Linked DNA regions of Homo sapiens: region 2 is reported to be linked to region 1. Evidence: microRNA targets listed by miRTarBase, many of them from high-throughput screens and not tested one by one. Region 1 holds a microRNA gene; the other region holds the end of a gene's coding sequence.
Evidence for each region. Region 1 holds the annotated microRNA hsa-miR-3936 (UAAGGGGUGUAUGGCAGAUGCA, at 3,039-3,060, shown strand). A microRNA usually pairs through its seed, bases 2 to 8, with sites in the 3' UTR of a target mRNA and lowers its output. Matches are read on the target gene's strand: a 7mer-m8 pairs with bases 2 to 8, a 7mer-A1 pairs with bases 2 to 7 and ends in A, and an 8mer does both.

Region 1 (4,388 bases):
CATTTATTTATTGGAGACACGGTCCCACTGTGTCACCCAGGCTAGAGTGCAGTGGCACAATCATAGCTCACCGCAGCCCTGAACTCCTAAGCTTAAGTGGGCCTCCTGCCTCAGCCTGCTGAGTAGCTAGGACTACAGGCACATGCCACCGTGCCCAGCTAATTTTTTTATTTTTTTTATTTTACAGAGACAAGGCATCCCTGTGTTGCCCAGGCTGGTCTCAGACTCCTGGGTTTAAGCAATCCTCCCACCTCAGCCTCCCAAAATGCTGAATTACAGACGTGAGCCACTATGCCTGGCCAGACTCATTTTTTAAGTGCTCAGTAGCCACATGTAGCTATTGGTTATCTTATTGGACAGCACCATTCCTAAGGCCTTTAAGAATTTGGGCTGCTAAACTTAACAATGCAAGATATTCCTTTTTAAAATAGTAGTGGCTTAGTGATAGAAACAGAACTAAGTGTATATTTTTACAATATAATGTGTTGAGTAAAGAATATTTAATAGTCACTATATTATGAGTTGAAAATAAAGCTACAGAAAGGGAACCTAACCTGGCCAGCAGATTTTTAACAAGGAAATCTAAACATTTGCATAAAGCATAATAGACTTAAAAAAATTATGATAAAGATGTTATCACAGGACTTGTTTGTTTCTTTATACTTACTATTCACTATTCTTACTTCCTGAAGATGGATGGTTATACCTTCAGCAATGTACTTAAATCCTTCTAACATCTTATGTGAAGTTATAGTTCTTATCTAGAACTAACTGAAAAAGAAAGCAAAGCTTCTTGAAAATAAACTCCTTTTTTGTGTGCTAAAATATTATTTTAATGCTTCAAAAGAAATGAAAGCTTTTATGAGAAGAATGTTGACCTCTGTCCAGACCAAACAAGATGAAGAAGTCTTATTTTAACATTTGAGAAATATCAGTTGGGCATCAGATAACATTCCTGAAAGGGACTGAAAACAATGCAGTATACTACAAAAGAAGCTGCATATCCTTAGGAAGAAAAGAAACTATTTGTCATAGATGGCTTGTCCACATGCGCAAAGCAGAGAGCAACCTAAGATGGTGCCGTCCAGTTCCAGGTGCACTGTGATTACTATCTGAATGCCATTACTATTTAAATTGCATTTTTTTTTTGAGACAGGGTCTCCTTCTGTCACCCAGGCTGGAGTGCAGTGAGGTGGTCTTGGCTCACTGCAGCCTCAACCTCCTGGGCTCAAGCAATCCTCCCACCTGAGCCTTCCAAGTGCCTGGGACTACAGCCACGCGCCGCTACACCCAGCTATTTTTTTTGTATTTTTGGTAGAGACAGGGTTTTGCCATTTTGGCCAAGCTGGTCTCAAATTCCTGACCTCAAGTGATCCCCCCGTCTTGGCCTCCCAAAGTACTGGGATTATAGGTAGGAGCCACCATACCCAGCCTTAAATTTCATCTTTTAAAAGAGAAAGAGAGCTTAGAATCTTAATCAGTTACCTGAGGCCCTTTATCCTGCAATATTCTGAATTGGGATGTTCCTATTTTACATATTAAAAAATGTAAAACTGATTTATATGGTAGATAACCCTACAGTTCAGGGCTAGAACTTTAGATTAAATGCATTCATACCCTGGCAGATGTGGTAGCTTGCCTCCAAGATGGCACCCAATGAATGATCCCTGTACCAGGATTGGTCTATGTGACCAAAAGCATACAGCATTAGTGATGATACTTATATCACTTGGGTAATTACATTATAAAAGATGTCCATCATGGGTGTTCTTTTCCCTTTCTCTTGCTCAGAGACAAGCAAGCTGTCATGTTATAAGCAGCCCTTTGAGGGGTCCATGTGATGTCAAGGAATGAAGTCTCTAGCCAACATTTAATGAGGAACTGAGGCCCACCAACAACCTTGAGTGAGCTTGGAAGTAGCTCCTTCAGCATCAGTTGGGTGTCGAGATGACTACTGACAGCTTGACTGCAACTTCATGAGAGTCTTCTGGACCAGAACCACTCAGTTAAGTGGCTCCCAGATTCCTGATCCTCAGAAACTCTGAGAAATAATGAATGTTGGTTGTTTTAAAATGGTAAATTTTGAGGTATTATGTTATGTGGCAATAGATAGCTAATATATAAATTATTTGAATCAAACAATACGTTAAATTAAAGCTCAGAAGAATAAACATCTGTAATTCCTTAATTTGTTTTCCCTTCTATTCTACAGAATAGAATTTTACAGATGAACCTTGTAGTTACTTGTGCAATAAGAGACAGTATGTTGTATTGATTAAGTGCAGAGCCTCTGGATGTATGATAGAAGAAAGACCAATATTCAATTGCTTTCTTCTTCAATTCCAAGCTTGTGAGCTTGAGCAAATTTTAAAAGTGTTTTAAGCCTCAGTTTCCTGGGATGGTAGTGCTTAGCTCGAGCTCCTAGCATATATTAACTACAAACTAAATATTAGCTATAATTATTAGTTTTACTTTGATTATTGACTCTAAATAAATACCTTAAGAACTTTGTGTTCTCCACAGATTTGGATATGTCTGGACGTTATGTAGGCTGGAGTAGTCAGCAATTACTTGCCTGAGGAAGGGAAGGCCTCCTCCTTTAAGAAAAGAATAGGCTGGGTGCGGTGGCTCATACTTGTAATCCCAGCATTTTGGGAGGCTGAGGAGGGTGGATCACCTGAGGTCAGGAGTTTGAGACCAGCCTAAGGAACATGGTGAAACCCTGTCTCTACTAAAAATACAAAAATTAGCCAATTGTGGCACGCGCCTGTAGTCCCGGCTACTCAGGAGGCTGAGGTGAGAGGATTGCCTGAGCCTGGGAGGTGGAGGTTGCAGTGAGCCGAGATCGCGCCACTGCACTCCAGCCTGGGCAACAGAGTAAGACTCCGTCTCAAAAAAAAAAAAAAGAAAGAAAGAAAAGAGTAGAAGGCCCAAGCTTAGTCCAATATTATAGCTTCAGCATCAGAGTAGAGAATGATTCAGAGCATCTGTCCAGTGTCTGCTGTAGATCCCTCAAATCCGTGTTTGGACGCTTCTGGTAAGGGGTGTATGGCAGATGCACCCGACAGATGCACTTGGCAGCAATAACTTATGCATACCTGAAGAATGACCCTATGGTCTAAGAAGAATGTGTGTTCAGAGCTCCAAGCTAAGGAATCTGGGAGTGGCCAACCCAGATATTTCATTTCTTATCTATGACGAACTTCTGAACTGCTCCCACCCCCAGCCCATCCTGTAGAATGCAGGCCCTACGAGGCGATCAAAGCCCTTTGTTTTAGGTTAAATGAAGGTTGCCTGGTGGAGGTTGCTAGGGGAAAGGTGTTAAGTAAAAATGTTATATAAACTGCATGGTGTTTTTTGTTTGTTTTTGTTTTTTTGAGACAGAGTTTTTGCTCTTGTTGCCCAGGCTGGAGTGCAATGGTGCAATCTCGGCTCACTGCAACCTCCGCCTCCTGGGTTCAAGTGATTCTGCTGTCTCAGCCTCCCAAGTAGCTGGGATTACAGGTGCCCACCACCAGGCCCGGCTAATTTTTTGTATTTAGTAGAGTCAGGGTTTCCCCATGTTGGTCAGCCTGGTCTCAAACTCCTGACTTCAGGTGATCCACCTGCCTCAGCCTCCCAAAGCGCTGGGATTACAGGTATGAGCCACCACGCCTGGCCAATTGCATGCTTTTTACAAGGAGTTTTGGTTCTCCTGCCCAGCCCACTGCCACTGGACTGCCCTGTATTGTAAGTCCCCTCAATAAACCTTATGTCTCAGTTTCTGGTTCTAGGTCTCTTCTTCAGCCTCTTGAACATGGTGCCATCCCTACTGAAGTCAATGGGGTCTGACATGACTAGGGGAACTTGAACAAAATCTGAAATAGCTGTTTTTTTCTTGCCAAAATCACTGTAAGACATTATTTGCCTCAGCCCCAGAACATTGAATTATATGACCCAAGAGTGGAGAAACAGAGAAGTCTGTCTGTGTCATCAGACAATATCCCAAGTGGGATGTCATCACCCCAATGCATATTGGCATTTGGGCAGAGTAGAGCAGCGTCAGCCTAGCAAGACTTGGCACAATTCTGTTGGATTGCACAATAGAATGAGAAATCACATTTCTGCTGTTATGTGATTCTGCATTTTAACTCCAGTTTGTTTGGCCTGGACAGACAGGTAACTAGCCATGAAGACAATGGACCTTGAAACATTCTGAAGACTAGAAAAAGTATGTAATAAAATACTTTGAACAACTGTTTAAGGACTTAAATGTCCAGACTGTTTCTTTAGATGAGTGTAATTTCCAATGTGAAACCCCACAATTCGGCTTCAAGAGGTACAGGACAGTTTTTGAATTCCACAGAAAAAATTTTGCATTGCAACAAACTTGACCATCCTATTTGTGG
Region 2 (4,388 bases), not on the chromosome of region 1:
AGGTCCTTATGCCATTTAAAAGAGCACAGACCATCAGACTGCACTTCTCTGCCCTACAGGAAATTTGTATCAGCTACTTGGACTGCTGTCAGCGGGAGCGCAGCCGCCACAGCCGCCACAAGATCCTCAGGTGCCAGCTGGGGACATGGTTGTGCAGCTGGGCTCTGGGGTCCTCTACCCATAGCTCCCTGACTTTTCCCCCTCACCATCCCCCACCGCTGCAGGGAGAACTATCTATTTGTCTGTTCCTGTCCCAAATGCCTGGCAGAGGCTGATGAACCCAATGTGACCTCAGAAGAGGAAGAGGAAGAGGAGGAGGAGGAGGAAGGAGAGCCAGAAGATGCAGAGCTGGGGGATGAGATGACTGATGTGTGATGTTGCCCTGCCCAGAAAGGGCCCTGCCCTAGACCCTGCCAGAAAAGGGGGCTCTTCCCCCAGAGAAGTGGCTTGGAGGGAACTTCCCACTCCCATTGCCTGCTTTCCCCATTCCAGCCCTCTCTGCTAGAGGGTAGGAGAGAGCCTGGATCTCTGGCCCCAACCCCCACCAGACCTCATGCCCTGGACACTGCTGCTGAGTTGGCTCAGACTCTGCACTGGCACTGAGCCTTTCACAACTGGCCTCCCCTTGAGGTTCCTCCACTCTAGGGTTTGAGGGGCTGGAATCAGGGCCAGGGCCTAACAGTGTTTCTTCCCCTCGGCCCCACGGCCCATACTCACCCCTTCACCTGAGGCTTCTCCCCTCTCAACTTGCTGTTGATTTCTTTTGAGGGGTAAAAGAAAGACCGAGTTCATTGAAGCAGAGATGGGAGGTGGTGAGGCGTCCTCACCTCCCCCCACCACAGCTGTGGCTGGTAAGGCAACTGCTTGACCACTGGCCCAGCAAGCAGAGGCGGGCAGGAGGATCTGGGCATCCTGAGCCCCTTCCCTGAGGCTGTCTCCTGGGAATGCTGGACCAGGGGGATTACTTCCCCCACCCACACCCCCATTTGGACATCTGGGGAAGTGGAGATTAACCCCTCCCCCAGACTCGTGCCTTGCCTCTCAGGACCTGGCACAGTGGCTGGCCTTATGGAGTATGGAAAAGGCCTCTGCCTTCCTCAGGAGGGACACATAGTGGGTCATCACCCTTTCTCACACCTGCTTCCCAATGAGCACTCAGCAGCATGGCTGAGACCTGGGGCTTGACAGGCCTGCGCTCCTTAGATTAGGATGCTCTGGTATTCCTGGGGCCAGTTAAAATGGGTCAGTGAGGGGCTCTCCTGGCCTCAATCTCCATCTTTAGGGTCTCCACAGACTAACATTGAAGTCTTCCAGAAACCTCGAGGAGCTGGGCTAGATACTTCGAGAGTAGCCCTGTCTTGTCCCCTCCTACCCCCAGATTAGCACCACCCCTCTCACTCTTGGGTTGGATGCTATGGGAATTACAACCCATCACTCCCAATGCCTCCCTTTCCTGGAGGAGCCTGCTGCATTCTCCTGCTGAGGGATCCCAGAGAGGGCAGGTGCCCACCCCACAGGCCCTTTCCTGGACCATGGAGCCAGGTGAAACCTGTCTGGCCCCTTACCCATTGGGTTCTTACTCCTTCACAACGGTCAGCACTCCTCTCCCAGCCCCCCTGCCCACTGTTCTCAATAAAATGTGAGTGGTGAGAGGCCTCTGCAGGAATGCTTTGTGGCAAGTGGCTGGGCAGGCTGCCCCGGGCGTGCAGCAGGCACAGGTGGGTGCAAAGGAATACCAATTAGACCAGGTAATGGTAGGAGATGGGAGCTCCAGGCTCACCAGCTTGGGCTCACCTCTACTGTTATTTACACCCTGCTATGCAAATGTTCTAATGCCCAAGAGCAAGGGTCCTCTGAGGTCCAGTTTGGGTGGTTTTTAAATTTTGAGACAGGGTCTCACCTTGTCACCCAGGCTGGCATGCAGCAATGCAATCATAGCTCACTACAGCCTTGAACTTCTGGGCCCAAGTGATCCTCCCACCTCCGCCTCCTGAGTAGCTGGGACTATAGGCTCACACCACCACACCCAGCTAATTTTTAATTTTTCTGTAGAGATGGGATCTTGCTATGTTGTTGCCAAGGCTGGTCTTGAATTCTTGGCCTCAACTGATCCTCCCACCTCGGCCTCCCAAAGTGCTGGGATTACAGGCATGGGCCACCATGCCTAGCCCTGAGGTCCAGTTTGGACCCCCAGTTCCAGGCTCTAAGATGAGTCTTCTCCTGAGGGGCTGAACTCTGGCTTCCCAGGGCTTCCTTGGCTCCTAGCAGGAAGCTGTGCTGGGATCTAAGACTAGCAGTCTGAGCACTGGTCCCAAATGACCTAGGCCAGTCACTGTCCTCTGTGGGTGTTTCCTTTCCTCAGAACGACAGTATGGGACGATACGAGTGAGTTTGAAGGTCCTGCCCACCCGTGTGCTCTTATTCTAGGACACAGTTGCAACCCTGATGAGAAGCTTTATTGCTAAAAAGTCAGTGAGGGTTTATTGAGTCCCCAAACACCAGCTCTTTAAACCACTCCAACAACTGCTGTGAAGGTCACTGTGCAGAGACCCTGGGTAGGGGAGGCTGGAGCCAGGTGAGTGTGACAGGTCACAGATGGCTCTCAGGCCACCTGCCTTCAGCTCCTTTTGTTTCGGGTTCTAGCCAGAAGCCCTGGGGCCTGTCTCTTGCCTCTTCTTGTAGCATGAGACACCCTTGGGGGCCCTGGGGAAGGGAAGGCCAGTGGTGTGGCTTCCCTTTCAGCCTAGCAACGCCCAAACCCTTTTCCTCTACCTGGCTCCACTTGTCCCCAGATGCTATCTCCAAATTCCAAGTAGCAAAATTCCTGGGTTTCCCCTTCCCAGCTCAGAGTCACTTATGGCTGGAATGTGGGACAAACTCTTCTACCAGAAGGTCCAGGGCGGTTGCAGCAGCTCAAAGGTGGGGATGCTGGTGACATTGACTGGGATGGAAATGATGGCCCATGGCAGCCCATGCTGTTCCAGAGAGCGGCGGATCATGTAGCTGGGAGGGCATGAAGAGAGGTGGTGACGGTCACTTTCTTGGTACCCCATCATGCCCCACTGTCCCCATCAATCTGGGAGTTCCAAAGCCCGAGATCTTTTTTTGCCCTCTAACTGAAGCACCCCAAGTTGAGGCCTGCAAGAAGGGACTGGTGATTACCCCTGACCCAGTCATGGCGCCCAGCCTGGTGCTGATAAAGCCAGAGGCAAGGAGCCCTCACCCGTCTCGGCCGAGCAGGAAGAGGGCGGGGATGTCAGCTGTGCGCTGGGTACTGTCCTGGATCATCTCCACGTAGAAGCTGTCATTGTCAACTGCGTTGTCAGAGATGATCACCGCCCGCCCGCCGTGCTCCTGGACCACCCGAGTCTTGGAGAGGAAGGAGCAGCCCCTGGAAGAGGTGGTGATAAGACCAAAGGAAAGACAGGTCCTAGCTCCCCCTTCCCCAGACCATCACCCTGGGAGTATAGAAGGCAGACTATGAAGAATCTGTTATAAAGGCTCATAAGTAAATAGCTAAAAGCATGGATAATTTAAATACATTTCTTTTTCCTTTTTCTTTTTTTTTGGAGACTGGGTTTTGCTCTGTTGCCCAGGCTGGAGTGCAGTGACGTGATCTCGGCTCACTGCAGCCTTAACATGCGGTCAAGCAATCCTCTCACCTCAGCCTCGAGTAGCTGGGACCACAGGTGTGCACCACCATGCCCAGCTAATTTTTGTATTTTTTGTACAGACAGGGTTTCTCCATGTTGCCCAGGCTAGACATTTCTTAAAGACGCTTAAAAAGATGAAATTTTCAAAAACAGCTCTTTCAAAGCACTACTACCAATAATCTCAGAATCTGCCGTATGCCTGCCCACTCCTCGTGTCCTGCCTGCCCACTCCTTACCCCCTCTCCACCAGAGCAATCTGGTCCTGGATGAAGAAACCGTTGCTGAGTTCCCCGCAGGCCTCTGGAGGTTCAGCGGGGACAAGGTGAATCTGCTCATACCTTGTGTGCTGAAAAACATTTAACATTTGGACAGGTGAGAGTGTAATGAGACACACCTGCTTTAGGACTGGGCTGACAATCCCATCTTATTGGCACCTTATAAAGTGTGAAGGAAACATGGAGTGGTTTCTGTATCGCCAGACACTTAAACATTTTTACTTAATTCTCGCAAAGGCCTATCTGGTTGTCCTACACCACCCTACCCTTCTATGAGATAGGCAGGGGACTTGGTTGTAGATCCAGAGAGAGGAAGTGATGTGCCTTAAGTCACATAGTTCACAGGTAGAGCTGGCAGAGGAAGCTGGTGCTCTTGGCTTTTCACTTCATGTCCCCTAAAAAGACAACTTGTCCCTCCATGGTGCCTAGGTTTATATTATACTCAGGGGAGTAGCTGGAA

Region 2: miRTarBase lists SMYD5 as a target of hsa-miR-3936. Seed matches in the 3' UTR shown: 7mer-m8 at 716-722 and 7mer-A1 at 1,558-1,564.

The regions. Positions count from the first base shown.
Region 1 is chr5:132,364,185-132,368,572 of GRCh38, reverse strand. It overlaps MIR3936 (microRNA 3936), which reads left to right and starts at 2,974; the gene lies at 2,974-3,083. MIR3936HG (MIR3936 host gene) reads left to right here. Exons shown (of 8, transcript NR_110997.1): 2 at 1,792-2,005; 3 at 3,546-3,638.
Region 2 is chr2:73,225,572-73,229,959 of GRCh38, forward strand. SMYD5 (SMYD family member 5) reads left to right here. Exons shown (of 13, transcript NM_006062.3): 12 at 60-130; 13 at 225-1,650. The coding sequence ends at 375. PRADC1 (protease associated domain containing 1) reads right to left here. Exons shown (of 5, transcript NM_032319.3): 3 at 3,890-3,999; 4 at 3,224-3,391; 5 at 2,439-3,003. The coding sequence ends at 2,883. Among named protein-coding and RNA genes, the nearest start is that of PRADC1, 5.5 kb to the right of the region's middle.